Linked DNA regions of Homo sapiens: region 2 is linked to region 1. The links come from fine-mapping of genetic effects on gene expression. A gene starts in region 1. The other region holds a variant in brackets. All regions are shown on one strand. Distances are from middle to middle.

What was found. PIP is the estimated chance that this variant, and not a neighbour inherited with it, causes the effect.
Region 2: its variant is fine-mapped to the expression of SFRP2 in esophagus muscle (GTEx, PIP 0.98).

What each region holds. Positions count from the first base shown.
Region 1 is chr4:153,784,813-153,793,148 of GRCh38, reverse strand. It overlaps SFRP2 (secreted frizzled related protein 2), which reads left to right and starts at 4,066. Exons shown (of 3, transcript NM_003013.3): 1 at 4,066-4,815; 2 at 7,205-7,285. The coding sequence starts at 4,314. RefSeq lists enhancers at 458-752, 329-1,030, 2,004-2,173, 2,435-3,136, 3,137-3,838 and 2 more.
Region 2 is chr4:154,000,512-154,008,847 of GRCh38, reverse strand. The region is part of intron 8 of LOC101927947 (a long non-coding RNA gene); the gene reads right to left. Among named protein-coding and RNA genes, the nearest start is that of SFRP2, 220 kb to the right of the region's middle. The variant A/T (reference allele first, on the strand shown) is at 3,760.

The DNA.
Region 1 (8,336 bases):
AATCCCTCAGGGCGAGAAGGGGTAGGCCCCAGACTGGCTCCTGCTTTGCCCCCAAGGAACCGCCTTCTGCGTCTCCGCCGCGCCCTTCCTCCTCCAGCGCGCCCCTTCAGGCAAGAAGGGGGCGCTGAGCTCCGCGTTGGCCTCGGCCTCCCTGGACCCTTCGTTTGCTTTCCGAGCACCCATCTGGGGCCCAGACCCTTGAAATATTTAAGGAGATACGCGCAAGAGCTCGGGGTAGGAGTTGGCAAACTGTTTGTTCTCAGACTAGACTCTTCCTAAGATGAGGGGCAAAGGCTCTCCAGACGCAGACTCTGGTCTCGTTCTCGGAAATCCGCGTCTGAACCGATGGGGTCCGAGGAGCAGAAGCGTACACGGAGGTGCACGGCCGCGGGCACAGGTCCCCCCGCGTGGCAAGAGGAAGCGGCCCAGCCAGCTGCAGGGGCGTCCTCGTTGTGGGGCCGGGTAGAGGGAGGGCCAAAGGCGAAGGAATGAGGTCATCCCCCCACCCCTCGAAAAAACCTTCCTAAAAGTAAAAATGTAAGGGATCTCAGCGTAAAGGAACCTGACTTGCAACCTCAAAGGGACAATCTCTGTTTTGGGAAATGGCGCCCCCAGATGGCTGAATCCCATGAAAAAATACTCACCCGGAGCAGGGAAGGCCTGGGTGCACGGACCCGGGGAGAGGTGACGTCACCCGCCCGGCTGGCCAGCGCACGGCTGAAAGCCAGGCGGCAACGCGGTTGGAGACACCCGACAAGTCGCGACAGGTCCCCAAGGCTAGCCCGGTAGTCACTTCACCTCACCGAGGCACATGTAACGTCAGCAGCTGTACCACTTACGGTGTGGCCCGGTTCGTTACTTAACCTCTCCATGCCTCAGTTTCCCAGTGACTGCTTGTGTGCAAAATGATCATCCGGGAGCCGGTGCTGGATTGTGTGAATTAAGGAACTAGCATTTTACACGCATCGTTCTTCTCGCTTTCACTCCTCAGAAATAAGGGTCCATCCGCTTTGATTTTACTACTTGAGAGTGGGGGTGGGAGGCTCGCTTTTCCCAGCTCTTCGCGGAGGCCAAGCGGACTCCCTGACAGGACAGAATCTGAACGTGAGAGTGAAGGTCTTGCCTGTCCAGAAACTCTTGTAGCCAGCACAGGTTTAAACAAGAAGCCAAATTGTTCTGGAGAGATTGCTGGGGGCTTTCTTTGTGCCTCAAGCTTCTTCAGTGCCCTGAGCACAGGAAACACTCAAGCAGAGAAGCAGAGCCAAACCCAGGATACGGGAGGTCGAGGCTCTTCCGTAGACCTGCAGCATTGGGGTGGGATGATGTTCATTCTGTGTGTGTTCTGGACCAAGCCCCTCTCCAGGGACCTATGGGCAGCCCCCTTTAAGCAAGATGCCCGGTGGAGTGGGCATCCACCATCACTTACCCTGGGCTTGGGTGAATAGATTTTCCGTGCCTTAAATGGGCAGGGAGGGGGTAAACATGGACGGTCCATTGGTACAAATAAAAGCCTTTGGTGGGTTTTGATCAATTGCAAGGATCGAAGGAGACCTGTGGACCTGAGGTCAACTGGCAGCAGAGAAGAGTCTGGGTTCGTGAAGGCGCCGCCGCGGTGCCGCGCCACGTGTGAGCATCCCAGGGACCAGTCTGGGGAGGCGCGCTGGGATGGGCACCCAGTGTCCCATCCCTGCGCTGCTCATATGGGCAGAGCTCCGTGCCCGCGTCCCAGCCTCCGCGGGAGGTTATTGCCCTGTTCCCCAGTGATCAATTGGACCGGTCTTAGCCCAAAAGCAGAAGGGAGTGGGGAGAGCGACTTGAGGTGGGAAAGGCAGCAGCAGCGAGTGCAGGGTCGGGACCAGACTAAGTGGCGTGGGTTCCGGGAGGAGCAGCGATGGGCCGCAGGGGACGCCGCGGGCCGGGCAAACAAGCTGGCCAGAGGTGGACACTGCGCACGGCAGGGATGGAGACTCAGGCGCGACTCCCAGCACCTCCTGGCGGCAAGCCGGGCAGCGAGGGCTCCCAAAACAATGCAGCCGGCGCGCGGAGCGCGGGGGCCGCCAGCCACTTCCGGGCGTGCGGCAGCGCGGGGCTCAAACCAGCCAGACCAGCTTCGGGCTCCTTGAACTCCCAACAAGGGGCTCTGCGGGGAGGAGGCGACCCCAGCGGAGGGCGTTGGGGATTTAGGGGTTGGCCGGGGCCGGCGGGGGGTTGGGGGGGCGTGAAAGCGAGAGGGCCCTTATCCCACTCCCAGGCCCAAGTCGTAGCATCTCTCAGAGCTCACGCTCTTTATTAGCTCTTTCTTTTGGTGTGCTTCTGTTTCCTTTGTGGTTTCATTGCAAAGTAGTTTATGTTGGGAAGGGGGCTTTTAGGCCTCTTGGTGCTTTCGTTAGAGACGAAAAGGCCCTGAACCAATTTGGGGAAAGAGAGGCCTTTTGCAGCTACCCCGGGCCCTTCCCCAGCAGAGCACCCGGAAGCTGGGCTCTTAGGGACGCAGATTCTTGGAGTTCAGAATGTGCATTCTCTCCAGATGACGATTTTCCTGGCGTGTTTACGGTCAGCAGATAACACTGAGTGGGCTTTTGCCACCCATTCATTCATTACCCGGCTCCTCTAAGCAGCTGGACCGCAAAGTGTGCCTGATAACTTGGGCCTGGGAGCCGCCAAGGCCAACGCATCTTCCGGAAGGAGGGAAATTAGGAAGCCGGGGTCTGAGCCTGTGAATGACTCTTAAGTGGTCGGGAAGTAATAACAATGCGCCCACCTTACATATGAAAGAACTTCGCCCTCCGGGGATTATCTCTTTGGATCTTCACAGCCACCCGGAGACAGCGGCTGAGGAGAGCGAAGGCCTCCTGTCCCCATAGGGAGACTAGGGACAATTAGGCAAAAGGAGCCCACCCCCCAACCCAGAACTTACTGTTTGCAGTCAGAGACACTAGATCCCAGGCTCCACGAGAGCAGAGGCCGGCCTGTTTGTTCATTTCTGCACATCCAGCGCCCAGCATGGTGCCCCCTGGTACGTAGGGGATGAATGAGCTAATTCTAGCCCTCGTGGATCTCTAGGCAGGACTCCTTCCTCTACCTCGCTCCCTCCCAGCCTGCCCATCTTTTGTGCCCGTCTTTTGTGCCGGCCACCAGTCTTTACAAACAGTGCCCTGGGGGCCCATACTCCAGCTTTCCAGAGCGCACAGCTGCAAGGGCGGCTGTGTGTTAGAGCCCGTGATGCCTTCGAGTATTGAGTCATGCCATTCATTTAAGAAGGAAAAATCTCTCCAAAACGGGGAAATGGTGGGCAGTCCTGTGTGACTGGTGAGACTCTTGTAGGGGCGTTTCTACAACGACGAAACCCTTCCTAGGCACTCACTCCAACAGAATAACAAGCCCATTTTATTAGTATTTCGTTTTCCATGTAAAGTTCTGCTCATACGAATATATTTATAATTCTGATTTTTTTACGGCATTGGGGAGCACACCGACAGGCTGCTGAACGGTGGCTGGAGATTCGAGGGAAAACGAAGTTCGCCGAGGCGGCCTCGGGCGGGCAGGTCCCGGGCTCCATCACAGGGCACACGCGGCTACCAGGGACGCAGCCCCCCAACACACACACACACACACACACACACACACACACACACACACACACCCTCTCCCACTCATGCCTGGCAACCCAGCAGAAACTTCGGACTGGGGCAAAACAAGCCCGGGCCCCGGCGGCACGCGGGGCTAGGCGCGTTCCCGCCAGTACCTGGTCGCGAGGCCGCTCGCGGGGTGCCCTGCGTGCCCCCCACTCCCGCAGCCCGCGCCCTGCTCGCTCACTGTGGGGGCGCAGCGGCCAGGCTTCTCTGTTTGTTGTTTAAAGAAATCCTAGGGCGGGCGAGCGGCGGCATCTAGGGGAGGGGGCGCAGCCAGAATTCCCTTCCAGCAAGCGCGTGAGGGGCATTCTCAACGCAAAACCAGACCCAGAAAGTAGTGACCAGCCCTCCTCGGATTACCCTTCATTGGCTCCTCCCTTGCTCCCCCCACCCTCCAGATTTGCATAAAAAAGGCCAAGAAAACTCTGGCTGTGCCCCAGCAACGGCTCATTCTGCTCCCCCGGGTCGGAGCCCCCCGGAGCTGCGCGCGGGCTTGCAGCGCCTCGCCCGCGCTGTCCTCCCGGTGTCCCGCTTCTCCGCGCCCCAGCCGCCGGCTGCCAGCTTTTCGGGGCCCCGAGTCGCACCCAGCGAAGAGAGCGGGCCCGGGACAAGCTCGAACTCCGGCCGCCTCGCCCTTCCCCGGCTCCGCTCCCTCTGCCCCCTCGGGGTCGCGCGCCCACGATGCTGCAGGGCCCTGGCTCGCTGCTGCTGCTCTTCCTCGCCTCGCACTGCTGCCTGGGCTCGGCGCGCGGGCTCTTCCTCTTTGGCCAGCCCGACTTCTCCTACAAGCGCAGCAATTGCAAGCCCATCCCTGCCAACCTGCAGCTGTGCCACGGCATCGAATACCAGAACATGCGGCTGCCCAACCTGCTGGGCCACGAGACCATGAAGGAGGTGCTGGAGCAGGCCGGCGCTTGGATCCCGCTGGTCATGAAGCAGTGCCACCCGGACACCAAGAAGTTCCTGTGCTCGCTCTTCGCCCCCGTCTGCCTCGATGACCTAGACGAGACCATCCAGCCATGCCACTCGCTCTGCGTGCAGGTGAAGGACCGCTGCGCCCCGGTCATGTCCGCCTTCGGCTTCCCCTGGCCCGACATGCTTGAGTGCGACCGTTTCCCCCAGGACAACGACCTTTGCATCCCCCTCGCTAGCAGCGACCACCTCCTGCCAGCCACCGAGGAAGGTAAGCCTTCCCTCTTGCTTCCCCACTCCCTGCTGGGCTGAGACGCTCCCAGGAGATCCCGCCCCTGCCACGCATCCCAGTGCATCCCTGCTTGGGGTGCCAGTAGCGGGAAGGGCAGAAGTTCTGCCTGACCTGGTCTGTCATCACAACAAGCCTGTATCAAATTTGAGGCACCCCTCCCACGCCGCCCAAGTCTCGCGCATTCTCCTCCCGAGTTGTACCAGCTATACTTAAGGGCAGTTTAAAAATAAAACAAACAAACAAAAACAACAAAACTAAAAAAACGAAGAACTGAACGGCGGTTTAAAAAAAAATAGATACACGATTATTGTTAAAGATGCTAGCACTGGAGCTGCGCAGAGCGTTGGAAGTGGTGTTTGGTGGAGGAGTTTGTGGTGAGCATTCTGGCCAGAGGCCCCTCGCTCAGCCTCATTCTGCACCTTCCTACCACTGGGCAGGATTCTAGTCACAGGAACATTTCCTGTACAGAAAGGAAAACCAGGATGCACAAGTAGATAACCTTTTAAGGGTCTTTTTGTCCTTTGTCAATTTAGATTTTGGAAATAAAACCGGGACTGGCACGGAGTGTGTGGAAAATTGAACATTGGTTGTAACTGCTCAGATACTTGAGGAAGAGGGCATAAAGGGAATCTCTGGAAATCACTTTTCTATTGCTATCAGTTTTTAACTTAGGAGTGGTTTTGATTAGCTGGAGAAAATCATGCAAAAGAGATTCCCAAGTTTTTAGAAAACGGAGGGAGAGTTCCTGTGCAAAAACCATCAAAGCAATGAAAACCTCATGGGCTCTCAATATTTTTTCTGAAAGGAAAACATATACAATGCCTCTGAGCTGATTTGGGTCCCCTGGGTTGGAAAAGGGAGCTTCCTAATCCCTTTCAGGGCTTCAGCAGCCTCTCCCTTTCAATCTCTAGTAGTTTTCCTACAGACATCATTAGTTAAAGCAAATGCAAAGTTCTTTAGCAATCTTTCCTGGCAGGGACCATGAGTTTGCAATCATCTTATTGGTTAGATTTCTAATTTATTGCAAATGTTTGGCATTTTTCAAACATTTGTCCAACATGTACCATAGACCAACCAATACAGGTTAGTAATATTTTATATACATCCTGAGAGCTCCTAATTGGAAATGTTTGATTTTGTTTGGGTGAGGGGACTTAAGGGCAGTTTTATGTATGTTGCTTTTATTTCTTCCCACTATCAGCAGCAACATTACGCATCTTACATTTCTCCAAAAAGCCACTTTTCTCCTTCAAAATAAAAGTTTATGTTCTTCAAAATTCCAGCTTTGTGATTTTTCTAATTTGATAAATAACGCTTCTATTAAGTCACATAGTTTTCTATGAACATTAAATTTCACATTAGTGAAAATCTCATTTCACCTAAATTTTAAAGACATAATTAACACATTTATAAATGAGAGAAGGGCAATATAATTGTTCTTTTTTTTTTTTTTTTACTTCTCCCAAGAAATCAAACTCTTAGAAGAGCTTTTAGCAGGTCTTCTGATAATTGTGCTAGTATACAATCCCTAAGTTTGATCAGACCACTAAACCATTTTTGCTTCGTCTTTGATTAGCTTCAGAAACAGGTTTATTTATTTGTTTGTTTTGAGAGTTTGAAACAGGCACAGAAGGGCAAGAAGAACCTGTACCAGGGAGCTTGCAGATAACAATGAAATGAATGCTGCCTAACTCAAGCACAATCTTGGCAGAGGCACAAGGTGACACAGAACCACTTAGAGCAGGCTGTTGTAATTAGTGAGATGTGTTTTCAAGGTGGAAACAGCCCACATGTGGAACGCTAGCCAGTCACCCCTCCCAGTCCAGACTTGGCCCCCCTGAGATACAGAGCTCTGCCGAGTAGAGCCAACTACACTGGTGTCCTGTGGCTGAGAAAGACAATCTTTTGTCTATATTTTCTAGTTACCAGTTTTCCCAAATTCCTCAAGTATCTTTGGTTCTTTGGGTGCTTTCTCCTTCAAAAGGCCTTGGGAATAACTTTTTCAGACTGAATTTCCCAGAGGTTGGGAGGATGAGCTGAAAAGCTGCACCCTGTCTCAGTTAACTATAACTACATACACTTGTATACTCTGCCCACAACTCCCTTTTGAGAGTCATAATTTATTAAACACAACAACATATAGGCATTCTCATTTTGCTCCCACCACCCCTCCCCCCCAAAAAAATTGGGAAGCATGGGAAAACTTTCTTAGGATTGAGTGTTCCTGCTTTTATAGAGGAGGCAGAAGCTGAGGTTAAATAGGACAATTGCTACTTTTGTCTGGATAAGTCCCTTTGAGTTGTTTACAAACGCCACCTACTGTTCTCTTTTAAGCAAACTTACTAAAGACTGTTTTTCACATTTCTAGCTCCAAAGGTATGTGAAGCCTGCAAAAATAAAAATGATGATGACAACGACATAATGGAAACGCTTTGTAAAAATGATTTTGGTAAGTAATACAACAACAACAACAGATTTCACATTCAGAAGTTTTATTTACCAGTAAAACTTCAAGGTGCAAATCATTATGATGTTGCTAGATAAAGGTTGGGTAAAACACCATTATAGCTCATGTATCCCAAAATCATCTAACTTGATCTATCCTAGTTTCCTCCTTATGTAACTGTCTAGCATTGAGTTGTATCTTGTTAGGTGAGACTCATTGTTCTGTTAAGCCAATAATCAAATAATGAAAATTATTCAGATTATCAATTTCCAGTGGCACATTTTAAATCCCTTTTTTTTTTTTTTTTTTTTTGCCGACAGGCATAATCCCGAGTTCTATTTTCTTTTGATTACTTAACATGTGCACCAGGGATGGAAGTGTAAATATTAGCCCCAGCCAAACAGATTCAAGGCTTTAAATTGGCCACAAATAAAAATATTTTTACTTTCTTTATAACCCATAATGATTTTAAACCTCTGTGTTCTACCATTAGTGAATATATCCAAGGCACTGATTAATAATTTGTCAAGGAGGGGTTCCTTAAGTTGAAAAAGAAGAGTGGCTTACTGAGAAGACACCTAACATGGAACACCTAACAACCTTAAAACACCATCTTAAAATCCCTTTTAAAAGGTTTTTGTAAATTTTGTATGACTAAGTCTAGACACATTTGCCACAGTTTCGAAAATAGTTTTAAAAAGGAAAAAAAAAGCTTAGAAATTTACTTTAGCAAGATACATGATAGATCACATGGTGTTTGGGGACAATAAAAAACACATGTGATATGTTCCATAAGTTGCAAGTCACTCCCCTGAAGACAGGATTATAAGGGGAAAGAGAGCTGGGGCTTTGTCTACATGGAACTCTACCAGCACCTCATCTGCTGACTTCAGGGCTCTCAGGTCAGAAGAGGAGCCCAGCTAGACACAGGATCAATGCTAAATTCAGAGTTGGGAATGACCAGGAACTTCACCCAGAGGCATTCTTGCTTTTATCCTTTTCCAAGGGCAGGTACCTTTTGGTGTGTTGGAATTATTGGTACCTTTTAAAAAAG
Region 2 (8,336 bases), 220 kb before region 1:
TGGAGGCTGAATGTTTCCACATTGAGAATGACAACTAGTGAAGGAAAGCTACACTTTAGGGCTCTGCAGAAGACTTGGGTCCTACCAATTGCTGTATAAGAAGGAAAGCTCCATGAGAAGAGTGACTTGTCCTTGCTCGTATGAATCTCAGGATTTAGAATAGTGGCCTCACACAGGAAAATGTTTTTGAATGAGACAGATTTGGAATCCCTTTGCCTCCCTGTGACCATGGGTCTCTCCTTGATTCTTCCGTCAGCGCCCTCTCATGCTCACTGAACGCTCTCCCCACATATGAGGCCCTGCTGTGCCTGCAGGCCAGCGGCTACCTCCAGTCAACATGTCTAAATTGGCACACCTCCTATTCCCACCCTCAGCAGTTCTTTCTCCTGGGCTTCCTCTTAATCTTCCACACCTTCAACTTACCAAGACTTGACACTTGGCCATCTTTAACATCTCCCTCTCCCTTATATACCACAACTACTCTTAAACAAGAGCCCATCTGCTATCATCTCACTCCAGTTAAAATGACTATTATCAAAAAGACAAAAAAAAAGACCAATGATGGTGAGGACGTGGGGAAAGGAGAATTCTTATACACTGTTGGTGGAAATGTAAATTAATACAGTCATTACAGAAAATAGTATAGTGTTCCCTCAAAAAATTAAGAATATAAACTACTATATGATCCAGCAATCCACTACTGTGTATGTAGCCAAAGGAAAGGAAGTCAAATATTTTGAAGAAATATCTGCACTCCCACGTTTACCACAGCACTCTTCACAATAGCCAAGATATGGAATCAACTGAAGTATCCATCAAAGGATGAATGCATAAAGAAAATCTCATATATATACACAATGGAATACTATTTAGCTGTAAAAAAGGACAAAATCCTGCCATCCACAACAACATGGATGGAACTGGAGGACATTGTGTTAAGTAAAATAAGCCAAGCACAGAAAGACAAATGTCACATGTTCTCACTTATATATGGAGTCTAAATAAATGAATCACATGGAGATAGCAAATAGAATGATAGTTATTAGAGGCTCAGAGGGTAGTGAGGAGGGGGAGTGGGAACGAAAACACACTTAGATATTATAGAAGGAATATAATCTAGTGTTCAGTAGCATAATAAGGTGACTATAGTTCACAGTAATTTACTGTATATTTTTACATAGCTAGAAAAGAAGATTTGGAATGTTCTCACCAAAAGAAATAATAAATATTTGAAGTGATGGATATCCCAATTGTGCTGATTTGATCATTGCACATTGCATACATGTAACAAAACATCACACTGTACCCCATAAATATATACAATTATTGTGTATCAAAAATAAAGCTTAAAGAGAAAAAATGTAGAAGGAAAAAAAGAAATGTAAAAAAATTTTTTTTAAAAAAAGAGCCCATCTGTTGACATGATCTGTTTCTACTCACAACACCCTGACACCAAAATATGTAAGTTTTTTTCCACACCCACAACCAGTTCTCCAGCTTTCCAGACACCAACTGGGTATCCAATGATTAAATTCCATTCTGACACTAGGTACCCAGAGTTAATTCAGACCCCACAGGTTACGGCCTCAGTCCCACAAGACTGTCCCACTTCAGACACCAATCACAAGTCCCAGCCACCCATACTTCTGATAAAACAGTCATAAAGTCAGAGGTTCCCACAACCCCTTCCTCAGTTTCAATGGTTTGCTAGAACAGCTCACAGAACTCAGAAAACCAGTTTACTTCCCATTGCTTATGTATTATAAAAGCTACAACTCAGGAAAAACCAAATGGAAGAGATGCATAGGGCCGGCGATGGGGGTGAGGACATGGAGCTTCTGTGCCCTCTTCACACGTTGATGTGTTTGCTGACCAAGAAGCCCTTCAAATCCCATTGTTTGGGGATTTTATGGAGGTTTCATTACATAGGCATAACTGATTAAATCATTGGCCATTGGCAATTGACTCAGTCTGTATCTCCTCTTCTTTCTTCAGAGGTTGAGGGGTGGAAGTGAGGTTGAAAGTTCCAACTCTTTTATCCTGTCTTGGTCTTCCTGGGAACCAGCCCCCAGCCAGAAGCTATCTAGAGTCCCCCAACCCCCAGCCATCTCACTAGCATCCACTCATGTGTGGTTGAAAGGGGCTTACGAATAAAATAACACACTCCTCTCATCCCATCGTTCAGGGAATTCCAAAGGTTTTAAGAGCTCCATGTAAGGAACTAGAGCCAGGGCTGAAGACAAGGATATATTTTTGTATTATATCACAATATCGGGCTATCTTCTGCACCATTCCCTCCTGGCAGTTCTCACCACTATTATTTAAGCTCAGGCCTTGATTATTTCAGCTTGAAATAAACATTCTCCAGGAACCTCTGACCCATGATTCCTAGCACACAGTTGGAGTCCTGGCGCTTTACTGTTCACACACTTTCAAAGGCTCCCACTGCCGACCAGGTAAGACACCATCCTCCTTAGCCTGGCACTGACAGTCTTCTAAATATAGGCCTCAAAACACCTTTTATCTTTATCTCTTGTTACTCCCCTCCACATACCCTATACTTAAGTTAAAGGGAACCATGTGAATGCCCCAAACAAACATGTCAGTTTCTTACCCCATGTCTTTGCTCCTTGCCTTCCCTCCGGCAATGCCTTCCTCTCCCTTCTCTGCCTGCCTTCTGTAACACTACAGGTTCTAGTTGAAATCATGACCATCCTTCACAAAGACTCATCCCACATGTTGGTTCCCCCAGTGGGTGCTCCCTAAACACCTCAGTTCCTGCCCTCAATTGATTTTTTTCTATTTGTGCTGTTCTTATGTCACTTACTGTATGCTGCTTTATGGTGACTTCAGTTCCCTTTTAACCTGTAAGTTCATTTAGGGCAGAGTGCATGTCTTACTCCTCCTTGAACTCACATAGTATCTTGTCCTCAGATGGTCATTAAATGCATACCAATTGAAAGAATAAATGCATGAAGGAAAATAAAATCAAGCCTCAGCTAGCTGTTACATTGAATAAGACAATAAATTAATTCACACTTAGATGGAAATGACTGCTTAAATGATTATAGACACAAAGATATTTTCATTGTAATTGCAGACAATCCATTAACCAAAGAATGACACTAAATTATGGAACCTCACAAGGGTAGTGTTGGAGTTTCCTGGTGCCACCTAAAATCAGATCACCAACTATCCTGCTTTGGGTATGAACTGCCTTAATGATTGGCTAGGCCTAGGTGTTTCAGGGTCCCCAGGATGGTCAGGTCTCCCATGTGACCAGTGCAACCTTATAATGCCACTCAGTTGAAAGTCAAACAAAGCTGACTGTCACATCCACCCTGCCATCCACTACAATATGTTACTTTGGGAAACTAACTACCTACCTGAGGCTTGGTTTCTTCGTCTGTCAAGCAAGAATGATAGTCCTGCTTTTCCAAGTTCTCATGAGGAACGGTGATCCAGGCAGGCAAGTAGAAGCTGCCAATGCAGCCGTGAGCATTCAAGTTTCTACTTGGGCCTCCAAGCACCACAGGTATGCTTGTGGTTCTGTCTGGCTCCACGTGGCTTTGGCAGGAGAAAGGGAGTCTGCCTCGCTGTCTTGCTGGACACTGCAGGAAGATGTTTGAAGCCTCCCCTCCAGTCTTTGTGGAAAGTTATCATAGGAGGCAATTTGGGGCAGGCTCCCTGATTCTTATGACTTTCTCCACCTCTGAGTTCACTGAGACCAAAGGAGCTTTTCCCAGTGAGGAGAGAAAC[A/T]TTCCAATCTATTGACATAAAAATGCCCATGGGAGAGTCCAGGGGAAATCATCAGACAGGAAGAAGATGGAAGAGATTGCGTGGCAGAGGCTTCAGGAGAACACAAGGTCTCAGGGTCAAGCATGCAAAGTGAGAGAGAGAGGGAGCGTGTGCTCCTGCCAATTCCTTCTGCTGAACATGTACCCTTAGCACAAAGAGCAAACACGCACACACACACTTTAAAAATACAAAAAACAAATGGGAAGTTTTCCCTTGGAAAAAAATAGCCTCTGGCAGAAAACCATGAAGGTAATTGCTAGAGACTGGGCCCATCTCGGCCCATCTATGCTGAAACGTGGCCTCCCCATACATGAAAGCTACTGCTCGCTGGTCAGGCCAGAACCCCAGGCCAGGCCTTCCACTCTCTCTGTCTCTCCTCAGGATTCAATCTTACTGCCAACTGGCAGTGAATCTGGACAAATTGGCAGGGGCCCACCTTGCTTTAAGTGAATGCATGTGCACCTCTCAAGCTCGCAGAGGATACTCATTAGCCTGCTCCACTGCCCCTTTGAGGGAGGTTAAGGTGGCCTGTCTACCAACACCGACAGAGCCCACCTCTCGAAACCAGTCACACCCCCCGCCTCGAGGAGCAGAAAGGAGGCCTTTGCTCCCCAAATACCTGTACATAGAAAGAGCTTCTATTCACAGAGTTATATGCTGGCTTCTTCTCATGCACTAGTCTCCCCACACATTTCTGTGGCTATGTGCTATGTCCAAGTAGAAAGAAGTTCATCGAGCTGAAAACTCCCCAGAAAGTTAGACATTGAGCATGACTCTAAATATGCCCCAGGGAACACAGCCCAGAAAATTTGTTAATTAAATCTCGGTGGAAAACTAAGTCTGACCACAGTCATCTTGAGTTTAACATGGATCAGCTAAGAAGTAATGGAGATCCATCCTGTGGTCACGCTAGCCGGAACTTTGTCACCTCCCTGGGCAGGGAATGGAAGGTGCTGCCTGGCACCATCTGCTGAGGAGGCCTGGAGTCAGGGCGGATGCACAAGATTTCAAGGGAAGGACAAAGGGAAGCCTGAGGAATTGGAGAATTTCCATTTCACCCCTGCCCCTTCCCCTTCTCCTCTGAGGGGCCTGCTTTTTCGACTTTGTCACATTCTCTCTCTGACCCCATTTTAGATGAACTCTTTAAAATAATGAATTTCCTATTTGATGATTCCATTTATCTCTTTGATAAATGGAGAGGGCATCGATTGCCAAGAGCTGCCATCAACCGCCTGCCTGGATTGGGCTGGTCGGGTGCGGTAATTAGCAAATGTTTAAGGACAGAAGAGTCAGTTCCATAGTTCTGGTTATTCACAATCGCTACAGTTCTTCTTATATATCCACCAATTCCACCTCTAGGAATTCCTGCTAGAGAAACATGCAATGATTTAGGACTCAAACTAGTAACAAAAATGTTATTTATAAAGGCAGAAAAAACAAAGGTTAAAAAGTAGAAATGTACTTGAATGAGTTACAGCACAAAGGAATACTTCTAAACCAATAATAAGTACACATTATTATGTATTTATCACAAAAAATGTGTTCACAATACATGAAGTAAATAAAAGGGGATCACAAGCAGTATGATCTCATTTTGGCAAAATGAAATAGTGAAAAAAAAGTAGGAAGAGAGAAAATAAAGACAGGAGGGAGGGAAGGAAAGAAAGAATCTAAGGATATGTATTTTAAAATGCTTCTTGCCTGTAATCCCAACACTTTGGGAGGCTGAGGCGGGCAGATCACAAGGTCAGGGGATCGAGACCATCCTGGCTAACATGGTGAAACCCCATCTCTACTAAAAATACAAAAAATTAGCCAGGCATGGTGGCAGGCACCTGTAGTCCCAGCTACTCAGGAGGCTGAGGCAGGAGAACGGCATGAACCTGGGAGGCGGAGGTTGCAGTGAGCCGAGATCACACCACTGCACTCCAGCCTGGGCGACAAAGCGAGACTCCGTTTCAAAAAAAAAAAAATGCTTCTCTATATAGTGACGTTCTCTTTATCCTTATTATATGGTATAAATTTTCCTTGTAAATTTCATTTTTTTAATTAGAGAGGAAAATCATGCTATTTAAGTGCGCGCGCGCGCGCGCGCGCACACACACACACACACACACACACACACACACACACACACACACACAGAGGAGTCTGTCCACTTCACTGTCCTGTCTCTGAGATGAGATGCCTGTTTGCCAGCTTCCTGCCAAGGGGCCTGGGCGGGCAGGCTGCACCACCCCGTGGCTTAGAGCATGTTCTTGCAGTACTTGCCCACCATTCCACCAGGCCAGGTGGCACCTGGCAAAGGTGAGGAAGCAGGGGTGTGGAGGAGCAAGACAGTAGGATGCCTGGCTATCCAAGTTCTCCTATTACTAGCACAGGCTTGTGAACCAAATCAGAGCTCCTCTTACAGAATATTTTTGTTTTCCAAAACTAAAATACCAAATTGACAGGAAAAGGAGAACACCCTGAAGGGCTCTGCTAAGTAGACTATTTCACTCCATGACTTTACATTCAAGGTCAAACTAGTTTAAATGTTCGCTTCCTGTTGGGGAGCAGGGTGCATGTGCTGTCCCAAGAGGGGCTGCCTTGCTAAGGGTCACAGAGTATGATACTTAGTGCTCGCTGACACTTAGTGCTCTACAGGAGGTGGCAGGTCCCAGCAGCAGCACCAGCTCCAACACTTTGGCATCACACTTCATTTTCCAGGCCTCAGTTTCCCCCTGTGTAGTAATGGGTACTATGTATTCACTAATAACCAGCATAACAGTCAGTACTCTTCACGCTCTGTTAGAGGAGCTCCATGGGGAGCTTATGGGGAGGGTGAGTAGTGGCTTAAGTGGGAGCCAAGGAAGAAGCTAAATGGGCAATGCCTTGGACCCCCAACCCCCAATATAACCAGAGCAGCTCCACACATTATCTCTTTTATATATTTAGGTTCAAGGGAAGGATTTATTGGAAAATAGATTTCTACAATTATGACTTAGCCACCAAACCAAAAATGTAGCTCTGATATATATACATATATATATATATATATATACATATATATATACATATATATATGTATATATATATATGTATATATACATATATATATAAAGAGAGAGAGTTTTTTTTTTTGTTTTTTTTTTTTTTTTTTGAGATGGAGTCTCGCACTGTTGCCAGGCTGGAGTGCAATGGCACAATCTTGGCTCACTGCCACCTCTGCTTCCCAGGTTCAAGCGATTCTCCTGCCTCAGCCTCCCAAGTAGCTGGAATTACAGGCACCCACCACCACGCCCAGCTAATTTTTTGTATTTTTAGTAGAGACAGGGTTTCACTACATTGGCCAGGCTGGTCTCGAACTCCTGACCTTGTGATCTGCCCGCATCGGCTTCCCAAAGTGTTGGGATTACAGGCATGAGTCACTGCACCCAGTCCTGATATTCTTTTTAATAAAGTATTACCTCTAAGCACAGTGGACTTATAATTATGTTTCAGCTGAGACAGGCATTGATTGCCTGGACTCTTTTTCCTATTTTCAATGTGATTTACTCATGCAGAGGAGGGCTGCCATCTTTGGGTATAATCTCAGAAATAAGATTCAAACATTCAGCAGACAAAGATGTGTTATTAAGTCATCCTCCCATAAAGAGAGTGAGAAATCCATGAACCTGGCATCTCTACAAGGCACCTGGCACCAATTATTCCTGGCCCTGGCTAAATGGTTCTACATAAGAGTGCTCAAAAATAAAGTGGAGCTATTTTGGACTCTTTGCTTGGGTTTTATTAGGTATTTTCTTTCCATATGAGGAAATGGTTCATTGCTCTGTTCTCCATGGTACCTGCTATTTAGCAATGGTGATGTCTATGTTTGTGCATATGCACCTACATGCAATGCCCTTTGGTGGTGGACATCTGCATTTTAGAAGTACTTTGAGTGAGGGGAATATATGCCAGCTTTATTTCTTAAAATAACAGCCATCTCAGTCTGTTGTCCGTTCCTATGACAGAATACCTTAGATTGGGTGATTTATAAAGAATTATTTCTTCTGGTTCTGGAGGCTGGGAAGTTTAAGGCTGACATCCAGTGAGGGACTTCTCACTGCATCATAACACAGTGGAGGGCATCACGTGGTGAGAGCAAGAATGTGCAGGTCAGCTAGAGTCTTTCTTTTTCTTCTTATAAAGCCACCCATCCCATTTTGCCCCCCCCCCCACCCTGATGATCTTATCTAAACCTAATTTCCTCCAGAAGGCCCAATGTCCAATCAATATATGAATTTGGGGATTAAGTTTCCAATACATTCAAACCATAGTAACAGCACCAGAGCAGAACTTTCACAACTATCTGATTCCTGACCCCCAACATTCCTTCCTTTCCTGGAAATAAGAAGGAGAAAGAAGAGAGGAAACAGAAAGAGGAAAAGAAGGGATGGGAAGGTAGGAGGGATGAGAAGGAAGAGTAGAAGATAAAAGAAATTAAAATTCATTTTAGAGCAAGCTTTTTAATCTCAAGTACGCTAGATTTTTGTTCTGGATGGGCTTGGGAATTC